Regions from separate parts of the Homo sapiens genome. Here region 2 is linked to region 1. Evidence: fine-mapped QTL for protein levels in blood plasma. A gene starts in region 1. The other region holds a variant in brackets. All regions are shown on one strand. Distances are between the middles of the regions. Region 1 holds the start of AOC1 (amine oxidase copper containing 1). Region 2 has its middle 30 kb from the start of AOC1.

Evidence for each region. A credible set is the group of variants that fine-mapping cannot tell apart. PIP is the chance, under the fine-mapping model, that this variant and not a neighbour inherited with it causes the effect. The UK Biobank Pharma Proteomics Project read protein levels with antibody pairs (Olink). The fine-mapping took linkage between variants from a reference panel, not from the people measured, so its PIPs are less certain.
Region 2: its variant is the best candidate, but not a certain one, in a credible set for the plasma level of the AOC1 protein (UK Biobank, PIP 0.51).

What each region holds. Positions count from the first base shown.
Region 1 is chr7:150,844,041-150,853,499 of GRCh38, forward strand. It overlaps AOC1 (amine oxidase copper containing 1), which reads left to right and starts at 8,477. Exons shown (of 5, transcript NM_001091.4): 1 at 8,477-8,518. All of the region lies in intron 1 of LOC105375567 (a long non-coding RNA gene), which reads right to left. RefSeq lists an enhancer at 8,059-8,630.
Region 2 is chr7:150,877,767-150,887,375 of GRCh38, forward strand. No RefSeq gene overlaps it. Among named protein-coding and RNA genes, the nearest start is that of AOC1, 30 kb to the left of the region's middle. The variant C/T (reference allele first, on the strand shown) is at 5,389.

The DNA.
Region 1 (9,459 bases):
CAAAGAAGACCACTTCAAGGCACTTAATAATCACACTCCCAAAGGGCAAGGATTTTTTTTAAAAATGATCCTAAAAGCAGCAAGAGAAAAAAAAAAAAAAAACAAGTAACATACAATGGAGGTCCAATACATTTGGCAGCAGACTTTTTAGTGGAAATCTTACAAGCCAGGAGATAGTGGCATGACATATTTAAGGTGCTGAAGGAAAAAACTTTTACTCTAGAATTATATATCTGGTGAAAATATCCTTCAAACATGAAGGAGAAATACTTTCCCAGACAAACAAAAGCTGAGGAATTTCATCAACACCAGACCTGTCCTACAAAAAAATGCTAAAGGGAGTACTTCAATCAGAAAGAAAAGGATGTTAATGAGCAATAAGAAATTATCTAAAGATACAAAACTCACGGGTATTAGTAAGTACACAGAAAAACACAGAATACAACACTGTAACTGTGGTGTGTAAACTACTTTTAAGTAGAAAGACCAAAATATGAACCAATCAAAAATCATAACAACTTTTCAAAACATAGACAGTACGGTAAGATATAAATGGAAACATCAAGAGTTAAAAAGTGGGGGAAGGCCTCACATGGTGGCTTCTGCCTATAATCCCACAGGGCACCCCTGTAATCCAAGCACTTTGGGAGGCCAGAGGTAGGCAGATTGCTTGAGCTCAGGAATTCAAGACCAGCCTGGATGACATGGCGAAACCCCATCTCTACAAAATATACAAAAATTAACTGGCATGGTGGCTCACATCTGTGGTCCCGGCTACTTTGGGGGCTGAAGTGGGAGGATCGCTTGAGCCCCAGAGGCGGAGGTGGCAGTGAGCTGAGATCACGCCATGCACCTCACTTCAGCCTAGATACAGAGTGAGATGCTGTCTCAAACAAAAAAAAAAAAGAACAAAAAGTAGGGGAACAAAGATAAAGAGAAAGTCTTTATTAGTGTTCTTTTTGCTTTTTAGTTTGCTTGTTTATGCAAGTAGTGTTAAGTTGTTATCAACTTAATAGATTGTAAGAGTATTTGCAAGCCCTGTGGTAATCTCAAATCAAAAAACATACAACAGATGCACAAAAATTAAAAAGCAAGAAATCAAATCATACCACCAGAGAAAATCACCGTCTCTAAAAGGAAAAGTTAACCGCTTTTCCCACATAACATCCAACTAAAAGAAGTAGAACCTGGATTCAAACTCAGGCCTTCTGGCTCTATATCCTGTACCAGTAACCATGCTGCTATATTTCCTTCCAAAATTGTGCTCAGCAAAGGGCTGCACAGAGGCAGTGACTGTTCTGGTGATTTCTGAAGTCCTACATGCTACCTCCAATATGCACCTGGAATGTCATAGTCACCAAAATGGTTTAACACAAATACATCCCTGCACCACACAAGGTCACATGTCTACCAACACAAATTCTTTATTTCAAAGATCAGCAACATATTTTAACTTCTGCTTCCTGATTTTCTGGCCTCTTGATTTTTTTCTTCTTTAAGAATCCAATGCACATTTCGTGAGGTAGCTACTAAAGAGAGCCAGGAGGAAGGAAGAATTCTGCTGTGTCTACTGCCCAGCCCCGGCTGCCAGACACAGCTGCAGCTGGAGGGAGGAATGTGGGATTTGACGGGGAAGCTGTCAGCTGGCCAGCACTGCCAGGCATGGTCAGTGAAGATACAAAGAGCGCCTGGAGGACCCAGCCCTGGTCTCTGACTCCTCACAAAGGTCTCCTTGGGGCTCCCTCCACCCTTGCCCCTCATGTGCCTTGGGATCCAGCATCAAAGTCCAGAAGTGGGCTCAGCCAGCAGCCAGCCATGCTCACACACTGAAGCATCCTGACTCAGCTCCTGGCTGCCCCAGCAGAGCAGAACCTCTGCCCGAACTTGGGGTCACCTGGCTCTTCTCTCTGGAGTCTCATATCCCAGCCCTCAGCAAATCTCCCCCAGCCTCCCTTCCAGCTACATCCAGAATGTGGCCACTTCTCATCACTTCCACCCCTGCAACCCTGACCTGGCAACCAGCCTTGCCCCCCAAGACTATTGCAACCACCCCCCGGCCTGCTCTCTGCTCCTGCCATCATTGCAGCCTTCACTCTTTTGCATTCTGTCTCCCCCAGCACCTCCAGATAGCACTTGCTAGAGGCAGGTCAGTTTTGGCCTCTGCACGAACCTGACAGAGGCTTCCCAAGTGGCTCAGAGTAAAATCCCAGTGACAGCCTTGGAGGCGAGGGCGTTTGGTCACTCTCTGAATCCACCTGCCACCACTTGCCCCTGGCGACAGCAGTCCCCTCACTCTGCATCAGGGACTTTGCATTCCTTGCTCCTTCAGCCTGAAATGCCCCCGCCACCAGGCATCCTTGTGGCCCACTCCTTCACCACATTGAGGAGAAGAGGAGTCCCCTTTCTGAAAGGTCAGGCCCTGCCCCCACCACATGCCCCTGCTCTGTTTTCCCCTGAGCATGTGCCCCACTGGAACACACTGGGTCACCACTTGCCGCCAACGCCTGCAGGACACCTCTCTGAACACCCGTGACACCTCATGGCACCTCTGCTGTCAGAGCTTCACTAGGACTCACCAGACTAAGCAGACAGTTATACCCACGGCCAACACACAGCAAGGACACAGCGGGGTCTGGAGGGGTCAGGGCACAGACTCGCTGAGCTCTCCCTCCCATGAAGGCTGCACAGAGCATACCCTGCGCCCTGCATCTCCCCAGGGAAGTAGAAGCTCAGAGCTGGGGCAGAGGTTGGGGCTGGTCACGTAGGCACACTCTCTGCCCACCACAACTAACAAGATTCCAGATTCCCAATAGGAAAGCAGGTGTTCACTAATCACATTGTCTGTAAAAACAGTCAGCAGGCCGGCACAGCGGGGCAGGATCCTGAAAGTTAAGTTCCCAGATGCCAGCCCAGGGCCAGCCCCTGTCATCAGCTGTCCCAGTGAGGAGGTCTGCTGTGAAGGCTCACAAGCTTCGCTGTTGGATAGTCTTCACTAAAATATGAGCCCCATAGAGGCTTTGGTTTTGTTTGTTCGTTGCTGTGTCTCCCTGGTGCAGAATGAGTGCTCCATAAACATTTGTTGAATGAATTAAGGACTGTCAAGTATAAGCCCACCAGCCAGTGGCAGAAGCAGGGCTAGCACCTGGAGATGAACGTTCTCCCCTCTCTGGGTGGGGCTGCCCAAGCCATCAGGACCTCACCAGGGCCCCTTATGACCAATGGCCCTGCCTCAGAAAATGGTGGAATTTTCTTTTTTACAAACCCACCTTCCCTAATCAGGGACAAAAGCTATGATGTTGGCTTCATTCACATAAAGATCTAATCGAATGAGCTTCCCTGGTGTACCCCCAGTAGGTCCTGGTGCAGGCGCGGGTTGCTCTGTTTCTTCTCTGTGGTTTCGTGGAAACAATCCCACTCTCTAGATCCTCTCAAATTAGCTCTGACAGGTTGTGACTTTCTGAAAGCAAAATATCAAGATTTAGCCACAGGACATGGTGAGCTGTGACCTCTGGCTTCCTAGCTCCACCTTTGTATATAGCGCTGCCCCTCCTTAGGCCTGGACCTCCTTAAGAAAGGCAAGCAGCGAACAACTGACAGGATACGGTCTTTGCCCAAGTGCTATCTCTAACTGTCAGCAATCATTAATTCCACAAGCGAGGAACCACACCTCAGAAACCAAGGTCACCTTCAGTATGGAGGGGCCAGCCCCAGCCAGGGAGCAGGAAGAGAGGTGGCAAGGCAACAGACCCCAAATTTCAAGTGTGACATCTCAAGTTCCCCAGCCACAGTGCACACAAACATGAGCAGAAACAATGGCCTTGGCCAGACATGGTCACTCATGCCTGTAATCCCGGCACTCTGGGAGGCCAAGGCAGGAGGATCACTTGAGGCCAGGAGTTCAAGACCAGCGTGGGCAACACAGCATGACCCCGTCTCTACAAATATATATATGTATATAACAACAGACTTACCAGCTTTTCTGCACAAGGATTCTGTTCGCCTCAGCTTTCCCAGTGCCTCTCTAGAGGGCTTCTCTATCTCCTCTGTCTCTATAGGATTCCCACAAGCCCCTCTTCACCCCCACACTTCTCTAGAAGCGCATAGGGAGGTTCCTCACTCTACCTCCTCCTTCCAGACACACCACCTGCCCTTCCTCAGCACAGCGACACAAACCGCACCCCACTCCCCGCATCAGCCCTGACCTTTTCCCATGTTGGGAAACACACCACATCTCAGTTCAGGACTCTGCTCCTACCCCCACTCACACTCCCACTCCCACCCCCGCCCCTGCCCAGTGTGTCCTCTTCCTCCTAAGTCCCTCGTGTATCGCAAAACCCCACACAGGCTCTACCTTGTGGATCCTCGGGGCAGCAGCCCCCCAGGGCACAGGGCTTGGAATTCACTCACTGGCCAAGGACCATGCTCTCTGCAATGAGGCAGGTAAAGAAGGTGTGCTGGGTTGCATAGCATCCCCCTAAAAATTCATGTCCTCCCTGGAACCTCAGAATATGGTCTTATTTGGAAATAGGGTCGTTGCAGATGAATTAGTTAGGATGATGTCATACTGGAGTAGGGTAGGCCCTCAATACAATCACTGGTGTTCTTGAAAATAGAGGTACTGAGACAAGGAGGACGCCATGTGAGGACAGAGATTGGAGTGACATGGCCACAAGCCAAGGCACTGAGGGACACCAAGGATTGCTGGCAACACAGAAGCTGGAAGAGGAGAGGAAGGACCCTCTTCTTGAGCCTCCAAAGGGAGCATGGCCCTGCCTACACCTTGATTTCACACTTTAGGCCTCCAGAACTGTGAGACAACCCATTTCTGTTACTTTAAGCCCCTGTGTGTGGTCCTCTGTGACAGCAGCCATGGAGGCTACTGCAGAGGGGATAGAGTCCCAGGACTTGGGGGCTTGCAGTCTTGAGGGGAATCTCCTTCCAAGCCCTTGCAGGACAGGCCCTTGGGCATCAATGTGTTGCACTTACTCTGTGCCACCTTGTAATATTAATCCTTCTATGTACATGTTATGGGCCCCGTTACATAAAAAATGCAATTCTTTCTGGTGTGCTTCAGCTCCCTGCCTACACGCAGTGTTCCTCCCTGCCCTCACTGCATCCTCCAGGTGCGGGACCTGTGGTGGTTCCTGTCCTCAGCCACATCTACCCTGGTGTGAGGACCTGTAGTCACTCAGTCTGTCTCCCAGGCCTTTCTTTTATTTATTTATGGACGTCCATTGCAGAACTGAATTAATTCTACCTCAGTGCATGGATGTCGTCATCACTGGCCCATACAAGTCCTCTCTCTTGTCTTTCTCACGTGTGTATGTATGTATTCCCACTCCCACCCCCGCCCTCACATCCATTCTAATGTGTATCCACTCTTGAAAGCGGGTGGCTTGGTGTGTACGTGTTTCCTGTTGTGTAATGGCATCGTGCTATCACTCATCCTGCGTCTTCCATGATCCTGAGATCCCTTCTCAGGAGTGGCTGTGTGGACATCCATGCCTTTGCACCCGCCAACTGCACAACACCCCATGGTGTGCAGTGACCACTCTCCTGGGGGTGGCACCCCGATGGCCTCCAGCTCCCCAGCCTCACAGCCACTTGTGTCTGCATCCCACCTCTAGGCCTGGGTGAGAACCTCTTTGACATATATTCCAAGAGACAGAGTTCCTGAGTCTGGAGAGCATGCAATTCTCTCATTTGCCCACACCCTGCAAAGTGCCCTCCAGAATGGCTGTGCCATCAATAACCCCTTCCCACAACCACACATAAGGTCCCCGTTTCCCCACATCTCTGTCAACACTTGGCATCATCCAGCTTTCCCATGAAAAATTATATCTCGTTGTTGAATGCTTTGCATTTTTCTAGTAACCACTACATTTGAGCATCTTTCCATGTGCTCTTTAGCCCTTTGGGGTGCCTCTTCTGCAAGTTACCCTTGGGATTCTTTACCAGGTTTCCATGGGGACTGCTGCCTCTTTCTGACCGATTTGCAAGAGCTCCTTGTGTATTCTAGATATTAGTCCTGTCACTTTTTGAAAACAGCTTTATTGAGACACACCTTACAATTCACCCATTTAAAGTGTATAATTCAATGCATTTTAGTACATTCACAGGTACATGCAGCCATCACCTTCAATTTTAGAACTTTTTAATCACCTCAAAAAGAAACCCCATAAGCATTAGCTCTCACCCCATCCCTCCATCGCACCCCAGCCCTAAGCAACCACTAATGTGCTTCTCATCTGCTTGAGAGATTTACCTACCCCACACGTTTCATATAAATGGAATAATGTGGTCTTTTGTGACTGGCTTCTTTCATTTGCCGTAGTGGTTTTAAGGTTCATCCACATTGTGTCATGTAACAGTGATTCCTTCCTTTTTATGACTGAATGATGTTCCATTGAGTGGATAGACCACATTTTGTTGACTCATTTATCAATGCAGAGACATATGAGTCGTCTCCACTGTTTGGCTATTGTGAATAACACTGCAGTAAACACTCTGGTACAGGTTTCCCCATGGACATAGGCTTTCCTTTCTCTTGAGCATATACCCAGGAGTGGGATTGCTGGGTTATATGATAACAACGTTAAGTCATTTGAGGAACAGCCAGACAGTTTTCCGAAGTGGCTGCGTCATCTCACCATGAACTGCCTGTGAGGCTTCCAGTTTCTCTGCCTCCTGGCCCCACCTGTTATTACCTTGCTTTTGAATTCTAGCCATCCTAGTGGATATAAAGTGGTATCTCCTGGTGGTTTTGATTTGCATCCCCTGATGACTAATGACATTGAACAGCTTTCCATGTGCATATTGGCCATTTGTGTATCTTCGTGAGGGGAATATCTATTCAGATCTTTGGCTCATTTTTAATTGGATTATTTGCCTCTTATTATGGAATTGGAAGAGTTCTTCTTACATTCTAGATATAATTTTCTTATCAGATATATAATCTGTGAATATTTTCTCCCATTCTATGCTTTGTCTTTTCATTTTCCTGTGGGTGTCCTTTGAAGCATAAAAGTCTTTTAATACTGATGATGTCAATTTATCTATTTTTTTTTCTTTGGTTATTTGTGCTTTGAGGTCACATCCAAGAATTAGATGTAAAGTCAAGCAGATTTACTCCTATGTTTTCTTTTTAAGAGTTTTACAGTTTTAGCTCTTACATGTATGTCTTTGGTCCCTTTCGAGTCCGTTTCCGTGTGTGAAAGGGTCTAACTCCATCATGTGCATGTGGCCCCTTTCCCTTTAAATCTTTGCAAGTCTCTTTTCTCGATCCATCCTCACTCCATTAACTTTGTCGCAGTTTCCTTTGTGGAATGGAAACAGATTGTAGTCCTCAAAATCAGGTTGTTCCTGAAACTCTCTTCTAATCCAAATCCCCCCAATTCTCTGCGGAGTTGGTGAGCCCATAACTGAGAATACATAACTCACAGTCCTCTTGAACACTGAGGGTGAAAGACGTTAGCATTCATTGTCTTTGTATCAATCATCATTTTAACATGGAAGGCAAATCCCCTTCCTCAGAAACACCAAAGACCTTCTGGAATTGCAAGCAAGCTTCAAGTTGACTAAGTGTGTTCACCTTCCTTCATCTAGCTGCCAGTGCACACTGAAATGGCTTGCATTGCGGGCAGCAGGAAGGATGATGATGAGAAATACAAAACCCCTATAACCACAAAGCGGTGTGCAATCCCTGAGCAACCAAACCTTGGTAATGGGGGATGATGACCCCTTGGCACTCCTGAGCCACGAACTTTTCCTGACTCTATTCTTTCCTTTCCAACTAGGAGTTACCCCGGTCACCACGTTCGCCCTTCTCAACCTGACTAAGTGGGCGTTAGCACTGTCCGCCCACTGCATGGGCACTACCTGCCCCAGTGTCCTCTCCCCTCTCCGCTCTGTGCCATAGCCTTAGCTACCCTGGCCAGCTTTCTCCCAGCCAAGTCCTTCCTCCTTTCTGAATCTGGTCAGGGTCTCAAAGATCGTTAAAAAGCCGCCAAAGTTTGCAACTCGTCTTGAGTGGCTGCTCCTCCCAAACGGTTCTGCCTCTGGTGTCTTGTTCTAGGAGCGGTTGAATTCTCTGTTTTGCTGTGGGTGCCAGCCTCTATCAGCCCCTGCCCTGGTCCATCTGTCAGCTTCAGGTAAGACTACCGGCTAGGAAATGGCCCCTTGTCCTTATCTCTGCCTCTAAAATATGCCACCTAAATTAACAGATCGTGGCATTGCATGGCTCGTCACAGAGAAGCCAAGGCAAATTCTTGTGGAAGGCGGCACTTGTCTGGAAACAGACTCAGGACAAGTGTGCTGCACAGCCAGCTTCCTCAAACCCACTCTCGCCACTGTAGCTGCCCACAGAGGCACCTCCCAAGCCATAGGCCCCTCCTAGGCCAGCTCAGGCCTCACCTTGTCCCTCCCTGCAGGGCGGGGTCTGATTGACTTCAAGAAGGAGTCAGAGATCAGCTTAAGGGCAAAGGCTGGAAGCAGAGCGAACTGGGAGCAGAGCACACAGGTGCGTTCTGATGGGTATTCGGGAGAGTCAAGAAGGGGCTGACCTGGAGGACAGAAAAGCAGTGGAAGGAGGGCACAGAGTGAGGGGCAGAAGAAACAGGACACAGAGGGAGGAGGGCCAGGAAGTGAGGGCGGGAGCCCAGCACATCACAGAAGGTGCCCGGGTGCTTGGTGGCAGGCAACAGCCGGCCAGGGTGGAGTGGGGAAAGCTCAGAGAGGAGGGTGAGCAGGGAGAGGGCTTGCTTCCTGTTCCTGCCTGGAGGTCTCACCAGCCACCACCCCCACTGCCACTGCACATGGGGACAGAGGTTTGTCCTGGGGAAAGCAAAGGTCTCTTCCACATCTTTCTCCTTCCTGGAAAAGCAAAAAGAAACGTGGGTATAAGAGGTTGTAAAAAAGGAGACCCAGCCGTGAAAGGACATGGAGGTACCCTAAATGCACACTGCCAAGCAAAAGAAGCCAATCTGAAAAGGCTGCAGACTGTAAGATTCCAAATACAGGACGTTCTGGAAAAGGCAAAACTATGGAGACAATAAAAAGAGCAGTGATTGCTAGGGTTTCGGAGGAAGAGGTGGAGCACAGAAGATTTTGGGGGAGGTGGAACTATTCTGTGTGATATTCTAATGGTGGATCCATGTCATTGTCCGTTTGTCCAACCCATAGAATATGCAGCAGCAAGAGTGAGTCCTGATGTAAACTGTGGGCTCTGGGTGAGAGTGATGTGCAGGTTCATCAGCCACAAATGTATGGCTCTGGTGTGGATATTGATAGTGGGGAGGCTGCGTGTGTAGGGGCTGTGAGTATACAGAAACTCTCAGTACCTTTCGCTCAATTTTGCTATGAACCTAAAATTCCTCTTTAAAAGACTCCTATTTAAAAGACTTTAATAGACTTTATAAAGTTTGTTAAAAGACTTTTAATAGACTTTTTAAAGACTTTTAA
Region 2 (9,609 bases), 34 kb after region 1:
CACAGATGTGGCTGTCAAACACAGTGAGTTAACAAAGGACAGTGAAACAGGGGGACGTGCAAGTCAGAGGAGATGCCTGCTTCCTCCTAGATCCCCACCATTTTCCTGGCTTTCTACTCTATTCCCAAAAAGAAGACACACTGGGGTAGAGGGCTGAGGGGAATAATTCAGTCCACAGATGCAGTTTTCTCTCTTTTTGCTACCATGGTTCTGAATGAAGAGCTAATATTATACTATTCCCACCTGTGATGAGCCCCAGTCCTTTTGATTCTTTTTCTTCTTCATCATCCATCCAAACGTCCCCAAGTGGTAAACAGGCCAGCAAACCTGTTATCCTCTCTTCTGTCCCTTCCACACATGTTTTAGCTTTAGTGGAAGCTCACAGAATAACCCTCAATTATCTGTTGTGGTCTGTGGCATTACCTTCTTAAAGGAAAGCTGATGGGTTCTTTCAACAGGTTTGGGGTCCACTCCCAGCTAACAATTAGTGTGACCTTAGCCGAGCACAGTGTCTCACGCCTGTTATCCCAGCACTTTGGGAGGCCGAGGCGGGTGGATCACGAGGTCGGAGATCAAGACCATCCTGGCTAACATGGTGAAACCCCATCTCCACGAAAAATAGAAAAGAAAATTAGCTGGGCGTGGTGGCGGGCGCCTGTAGTCCCAGCAACTCATGAGGCTGAGGCAGGAGAATGGTGTGAATCAGGGAGGCTGAGCTTGCAGTGAGCCGACATCGCGCCACTGCAGTCCAGCCTGGGTGACAGAGCAAGACTCCATCTCAAAAAAAATTGTGTGACCTTGTTTTCCTTTACCATTGTTTCTAGTTGCCCAGGAATCTAGTGGGAAGATGTGGCTATGGTCTGGGGCAGGATATTTTGGGAAGCCTGGTGTCCAGGGATATTAGGCAAACAAACTTTTGCATTGCACTTAATATTTCAGAAACCCAGCTGAATAGCTCTTATTTTTATGGCACTAAGAAAGTAAATCTTAAATCTTTGCTCTTAACACCATTAAGACAAAATTATTATGAAAATTGGACAAAGTGCCTTATAGCAGCTGATATATTTAAAACATCAATGATTGTACCCTTAGCATTGTTTTATTTTTATTTTTTAAAATTATCTAAACATTGTTTCAAAGCTTGTGAAACTACTAAAAGACAAAGGATTGTAAATGTCAATGAAAGGAAAAGTAAAACAGCAAGTATTTTAGCATACGGGGGCAATCAAGTCATAAAGAAAAAGGGTTAGTAGCTCACTAGACAATAAATTATTATAAAGAAGAGCCAAGAAAAGTATTGCTTTGAAACTTTTTACTTTTAACCTTCAGCCTTACTGAAGAATTTGTTCACTATACTTTAAAAATTTATTATTCTGATCATATTTTCCTTGATTTAAGAGTAGTGTCTTCAACATTAGCTGATATACCTACTAATAGCATCCCACGTCCTACCATCATTTCTTACATCTGACATCTTCTGCTGTTGATCCATAGGTTAACAAAACAAAACAGAAACTACACACAGAAAGAAAAAGAAAGGGAAGAAAGAAAAAAGAAGGAAGAGAAAAAAGCAGAGACCACTTCCAGAATGATTGTATGAGGAGCTCTGCAGACCTGCTCCCCAGCAAAACACTTATATCTAGTTAAATGATTTTTAAGCATTTAAAGTCTCTGGAAATTGTTCCCAATAAGAACAATGAGAATCTATGACACTTGAGCCATGACTCACTTCCTCTCTCCTCCATCCCCCCAACTCACTTAACAGAAGCTCCACTCTTCATGGACTTAGCCAGGAAAACACAGCTCCCTCTCCATCCAGCTCCCAGTCAAGCAATACAATGGCTCCCCAGAAGAGGCAGGCCACCAGAATTCCTCAGCCCCCATTTTGCACAGGCTAAATTGTAGATGAGTGCAGCTGAGAGAATGGAAGCTTCTCTCCTCCACCCAGTCCCCACTCATAGGTGGAGACTACCCCAGGTGATGCAGGCTGAAATTACTGAAGCCCCAATTGCGTTTGGATCAGAGGTTCCATGCTACAACAGCAACCTGAGAAGACAAGAGGCTACTGCCACCACGCAGAGCCCTGCTCTGTAAAGCAGGAGGGCTCTGAGAGAAGCCAGCCACAGCCCCTACCCCCAGGTCTTGAGCAGTGACTCAAAGATTTTGCCCAAAGGAAGAGGTAGATCATAAGAACAGAGAGCACTGAAGCTCTCCCCCGACCCCCCAAGAAACTAACTTGATTTAAAACAGGATGTAGAGAAGTTCAAGCATAAGGGAACTCGCAAAAACAATGGAGATTTTGGTGGTAAACAATAAAGATAATGGGATAAACTATATGCCAGCCAGTTTACCAGAGAAAACAAAACAAATAGCTAAGAAGAGTCCTTCCACTGTCTGAACAAACCCCAAAGACTGGACTCAAAACAATCCTACAAAGGGACCCAAATTTATCTGGATCATACTGTGAAGCATTGCATACTCCAGGCATTGTAGAAAAACAATAGAAAATCAGCCAGTAATTAGTGTACCCTGACAGCTGGGTGTGATGCCAACAGAGACTGATGGCTTAGCAAAGAGATCAGGAAATGAGAAAATTAAAGAGAGGCCGGTTAAAACTTCTGTCACCCCAGATGACTGACTGTACATGTACCTAAGGCTGTGCCCTCTGAGGAGTGAAATCAGAGGCTTCACATTATGGGGAAATACACTTCACAAAATAGTCAAGCAAAGTCACTAAACAAATAAGCCAAAAACAACAAGAAGCCTTGGCCAGGAGTAAGGAGTACGTGGAGGGGAGGGCAGCATCAGTATCCAGAGTTGCTCCAATATATTATCTAAAATATGTTATCTAAAATGATCAGCTTTTAACAACAAAGCATTATGAGACATGCAAAGAAACAGAAAAGTATAACCCACAGAATAAAAAAACCCGGCAACAAAAACTCTGTGAGAGGGCCCAGATGGGGGAATTAACAGAGACATCAAAGCAGCTGTTATAAATATGGTCAAAGTACTAAAGGAAACTATGCTTAAAGAAGTGAATAAGGTTATGACAATGTCCACTCAAATAGAGAATATTAATATAAAAACAGAAAGTATTTTTTAAAAGAACCAAATGGAAATTCTGGAGTTGAGAAATATAATAACTAAAATGAAGAATTTGCTAGAGGAGCTGAGTAGTGGATTTGAACTGGAAGAAGAAAAAATCAGCAAACTTGAATACAGATCAATAAAGATTATGCAATTTGAAAAGCAGAGAGAAAAAAAGCAGAAAGAAAAATGAACAGAGCCTCAGAGAAATGTGTGACATTATTAAGTGTACCAAATATGCAAAATGGGAGTAACTGAAGGAGGAAGAGAGAGAAGAAAACAGAAAAAAAAATCTAAGAAATAATGCCTGAAAACTTCCCAAATATGATGGAAAACATTAATCCACATGTTCAAGAAGCTCAACAAGCTTCAATTAGGAGAAACAAAAACAGATTTAACCCAGACACATCATCTTAAAAATGTTGAAAGCCAAAGACATAAAGAAAATATTGAAATCACCGAGAGAAAAATACTAGTCACATACAAGGGAACCCCAATGAGATTAACAATTGACTTTTCATCAGAAATAATGGAGGCCAGAGGCACTGAGATAACATATTTAAAGTGCTGAAAGAAAAAAAACTGTCAAGCAAGAATCTTATATCCAGCAATATTGTTTTTTTAAAAATGAAAGTAAAATAAAACCATTCTTAGATAAACAAAAACTAAGAGAATTCCTTGCTGGCATGCCACCTCACAAAAAATAGCAAAATAAATTCTTTAGGCTGAAAGCAAATGGCCTAGACAGTAACTTAAACCCACAAACAAAATTTAAAGAGCACCAATGTAGATAATTTTGTAATTATAAAAACAATAGTGTAAATGCATATTTCTTCTTCTTTCTTTACTTAACTAATTTTAAAAGCAATTGTGGGCTCTGTGTGTGTGTGTGTGTGTGTGTGTGTGTGTATGTGTTTAAAATTGTATTGTTGGGTCTACACATATAGAAATGTATTTATTTTACAATAATAGCACAAAACCAGTAGGTGGGAGCAAAGCTGCACTGGAATAAGGAAATATCAGCTGATGGTAACTTGAATCCACAGGTACAATAAAAAGAGCCAAAAATGATAAATAAGAAGGTTAATATAACAAAATCTATAAATACATACTTGCTTTCCTTTCTTCTCTCAGCTTCTTTAAAAGGTACAGAATTCCATAAAGTAATAGTTATAACTATGTTATTTTGGGTTTGCAACATATATAGATATAATATGTATAACAATAATGACACAAAAGGAGAACAGAATATAGAGCTATACAAAAGCAGCATTTCTATAACTCGTTGGAATTAAGTTAGTATAATCTGAAGCAGATTCTGATAAGTTAAAATGTGTATGGTAAGGCCTAGAGCAACCACTAAGAAAATAACTAAAAAAAAAAATACAGATAAATGAGATTAACCAAGAAAAGAAGAGAGACTATCCAAATAAGCTCAATTAGAAATGAAACTGGAGATATTACAACCAATACCACAGAAATACAAAAATCATTCAAGGCTACTATGAATAGCTTTACACACACAAACTAGAGAATCTAGAGGAAATAGATAAATTCCTGGGAACATACAACTCTCCTAGAATAAATCAGGAAGAAATATAAACCCTGATCGGACCAATAACAAGTAGTGAGATTTCAACAGTAATAAAAAAAATTTCCAACAACAACAAAAGTTCAGGACTAGATGGATTCACAGCTGAATTCTATCAGACATTCAAAGAAGAATCAGTACCAATCCTACAGAAACTTTTCAAAAGATACAGAAAGAGGGAATCCTCCCTAAATCATTCTATGAAGCCAGTATCACCCGAATACCAAAACCAGGAAAGGACATAACAAAAAAAGAAAACTACAGACCAATATCCCTGATGAACATAGAGGCAAAAATCCTCAACAAAAATACTAGCTAACCAAATCCAACAGCATATCAAAAAGATAATCCACCATGATCAAATGGGTTTCATCCCAAGGATGCAGGGAATGTTTAGCATACTCAAGTCAATAAATGTGATCTCTCACATAAACAGAATTAAAAACAAAAATCATCTGATCATCTCAATAGATGCAGAAAATAATTTTATAAAATCCGGCATTGCTTTATGATAAAAACCATTAACAAAATAGGCATAAAAGGGACTTACCTCAAAGTAATAAAAGCCGTATATGACAAACCCACAGTCAACACCATACTGAATGGGGAAAAGTTGAAAGCATTCCCCCGATAAATGGAATAAGACAAGTATGCCCACTTTCACCACTTCTATTTAACATAGTACTAAAAGTCCTCGCCAGAGCAAT[C/T]AGACAAGAGAAAAAATAAAGGGGATCCAAATTGGAAAATAGGAAGTCAAATTGTCGCTGTTCACCAATGATATGATCATGTACCTAGAAAACCCTAAAGACTCATCCAAAAACCTCCTAGATCTGATAAACAAATTCAGTGAAGTCTCAAATTACAAAATCAATGTACACAAATCAGTAGCACTGCTATACAGCAGCAACAACCAAGCTGAAAATCAAATCAAGAACTCAATCCCTTTTATAACAGCTGTAAAAATAAAATACTTAGGAATGTACTTACCCAAGAAAGTGAAAGATTTCTACAAAGAAAACTACAAAACACTGCTTAAAGAAATCATAGATGACACAAAAAAATGGAAACACATCCCACACTCATGGATGGAAAGAATCAATATTGTGAAAATGACCGTATTGCCCAAAGCAATCTACAGGTTCAGTGCAATTCCTATCAAAATTCCATCATCATTCTTCATGGAACTAGAAAAAACAAATCTAAAATTTATATGGAACCAAAAAAGAGCCCACATTGCCAAAGCAATACTAAGCAACAACAACAACAAAAAATCAGGAGGCATTACATTACCCAACATCAAATTATCCTGCAAGGCTATAGTTACCAAAATAGCATGATACTGGTATAAAAATAGGCAGGTATACCCACGTATACCAATGGAGCAGAATAGAGAACCCAGAAATAAAGCCAAATACTTATAGCCAACTGATCTTTGGCAAAGCATACAAAAACATAAACTGGGAAAAAAGAAACACCCTATTCAATAAATGGTGCTAGGAAAACTGGCAAGCTACATGTAGAAGAATAAAACTGGATCCCCATCTCTCACCTTATTCAAAAATCAACTCAAGATGGATCGAAGACTTAAATCTAAGACCTGAAACAATAAAAATTCTAGAAGATAGCATTGGGAAAACTCTTCTAGACATTGGCTTAAGCAAAGAATTCATGACTAAGACCCCAAAAGCAAATGCAACAAAAACAAAAATAAATAAATGGGACTTAATTAAACTAAAAAGCTTCTGTACAGCAAAAAATAATAATAATAATAGTCAGCAGCAGAGTAAACAGACAACCCAGAGAGTGGGAGAAAATATTTGCAAACGGTGCATCTGACAAAGGACTACTATTCAGAATCTACGAGAACTCAAACAAATCAGTAAGAAAAATTAAATAATCCCATCAAAAAGTGGGCAAAGGACATGAATAGACATGTCTCAAAATAAGATATACAAACAGCCAACAATCATGAAAATATGCTCAATGTCACTAATCATCAGGGAAATGCAAATTAAAGCCACAGTGAGGTACCACCTTACTCCTACAAGAATGGCCATAATTAAAAAGTCAAAACACAATAGATGTTCACATGGATGTGGTGATAAAGGAACACTTTTACACTGCTGGTGAGAATATAAATTAGTACAATCACTATGGAAAACAGTAAGAAGATTCCTTAAAGAACTAAAAGTAGAACTGCCATTTGATTCAGCAATCCCACTACTGGGTATCTACCCAAAGGAAACAAAAAAGTCACTATATGAAAAAAACATATGCACATGCATGATTATAGCAACACAACTTGCAATTGCAGAGAAATGGAACCATCCTAAGTGCGCATCGACCAACAAGTGGATAAAGAAAATGTGGTATATCTACACCAAGGAACACTACTCAGCCATAAAAATGAATGAAATAATGTCTTTTGCAGCAACCTGGAAGGAGCTGGAGGCCATTACTCTAAGTGAAATAACTCAGGAATGGAAAACCAAATGCCATTTGTTCTCACTTATAAGTGGTAGCTAAGCTATGAGGATTCAAAGGAATAAGAATGATATGATGGACTTTGGGGACTTGGGAGAGAAGGTTGAGAGGAGGATGAGGGATAAAAGACTACCTGTTGGGTAGTGTACACTGCTCGGGTGATGGGTGTGCTAAAATCTCAGAAATCACTGCTAAACGTATTCATGTAACCAAAAACCACCTGTACCCCCAAAAACTATTGAAATTAAAAAATAAGAAAAAGAAAAATATACAGACAAAAAAATTAATGGAATTAAAGTGTTACATTAGAAAATATTCACTTAATCCAAAAGAAAGCAATAAAGGAGGAATACAGGAAACAAAAGACATACAGAAAACAAATAGCAAAATGGCAGATATAAATCCAACTATATCAATAACAATGTTCAATGTTAAGGCATTAAACAATTTAATCAAAAGGCAGAGATTATCAAACTGGACACAAAAGCAAGATCTAACTATATTTTGTCTATATGAGATGAATCTTAGATTCAAAATTATAAATAGGCCAAAAGGCAAAGGATGGGAAAAGATATATCATACAAAAGTTACCATAAGAAAGCTGGAGTAGCTATACTAGTATTAGACAAAATAGACATTAAAACAAAAATGTTACTCAAGATAAAGAACATTTTACAATAACAAAAGGAGTTAATCCATCAGGGAAATATAATAATCATAAACATAAATGCACCTAATAACAGAGCTCTAAAATACATAAAACTAAACTAAAATAATTGAAAAGAGAAATAGACAATGTAAAAATAATAGTTAGGGACTTCAATTCCCTATTTTCAGTAAAGAACAGAACAACTAGGAAGGAGATCAACAAGACTACAGAAGACTGTTTATAAGCTAACTAGACCTAACAAATGTCCACAGAATACCCCACCCAATGAAAGCAAATTTTTCTCAAGTGCACATGGAACATTCTCTGGATAAACCATTTTCGGTTTTGTTGGTTTTTGTTGGTTGGTTTTTTTGAGATGGAGTCTCACTCTGTCGCCAGGCTGGAGTGCAGTAGTGTGATCTTGGCTCACTGCAATCTCTGCTTCCTGAGTTCAAGTGATTCCCCTGCCTCAGCCTCCCAAGTAGCTGGGACTACAGGCACGCACCACCACACCCAGCTAATTTTTTGTATTTTAATAGAGACAGGGTTTTACCATGTTGGCCAGGATGGTCTCAATCTCCTGACCTCATGATCCGCCCACCTTGGCCTCCTAAAGTGCCAGGATTACAGGTATGAGCCACCGCACCTGGTTGGATCAACCATTTTCTAGGCCACAAAAGAAGCCTCAATAAATTTCTGAGGGTTAAAATCATATAACATATGTTTTCTGACCACATGAAATAAAAGAAATCAATACAAAAAGAAATTTGAGAAATTCACAATAAGTTGAAATTAAACAACATATTCCCTAAATAACAATGGGTCAAAGAAGAAATCCCAAGAGAAATTAGAAAATCTTTGACATGAATGAAAATGAAGACACAATATATAAGACACAGTATAGGATGCAACTAAAGCAGTGCTTAGAAGAAAATTTATATCTATAAATAACTATGTTAAAAAAGAAGAAATTTTCTATCACTAAACTAACCTTCCACCTTAAAACACTAGAAGAGCAAACTCAGCGTAAAGCAAGCAGAAGAAAAGAAATAATAAAGATTAAAACAGAGATAAAGAGAACAGAAAAAAATAGAGAGCATCAATAATACCAAAAGTTAGTTCTTTGAAAAAAAATCAACAAAATGGACAAATCTTTAGCTAGATTGATGAAAGCTAGAGAGAAAGGCTCAAACTGTCAAAATCAGAAATGAAAAAGGGGACATTACTACATTACTACTGTTATGTGATGAAATGTGTCTCCCCCGATAAAAACAAAACTTATATATTGAAGTCCTAACCCCCAGTTCTTCAGAATGTGACTGTATTTGGACGCAGGACCTTGAAAGAGGTAATTAAGGTAAGTGAGGTAATTTGGGAGGACCTAATCCAAAATAATTGGTGTCCTTATTAAAAAAAAAAAGATTAAGACATAGACAATGCACAGCGTGAAGTTCACAGAGAGGAGATGGTCATCTACAAGCCAAGGAGAGAGGCCTGAGAAGAAATTAATTTCCAAGGACTTAATCTTAGACTTCTAGACTCCAGAATCATGAGAAAATACATTTCTTTCTTTTTTTTTTAGTTGAGACAGAGTCTTGCTCTGTCACCCAGGTTGGAGTGCTGTGGCGTGATCTCAGCTCACTCCAACCTCCGCCTCCCAGGTGTCTCATGCGTCAGTGTGAAGAGACCACCAAACAGGCTTTGTGTGAGTAACAAGGCTGTTTATTTCACCTGGGTGCAGGCGGGCTGAGTCTGAAAAGACAGTCAGCAAAGGGTGGTGGGATTATCATTGGTT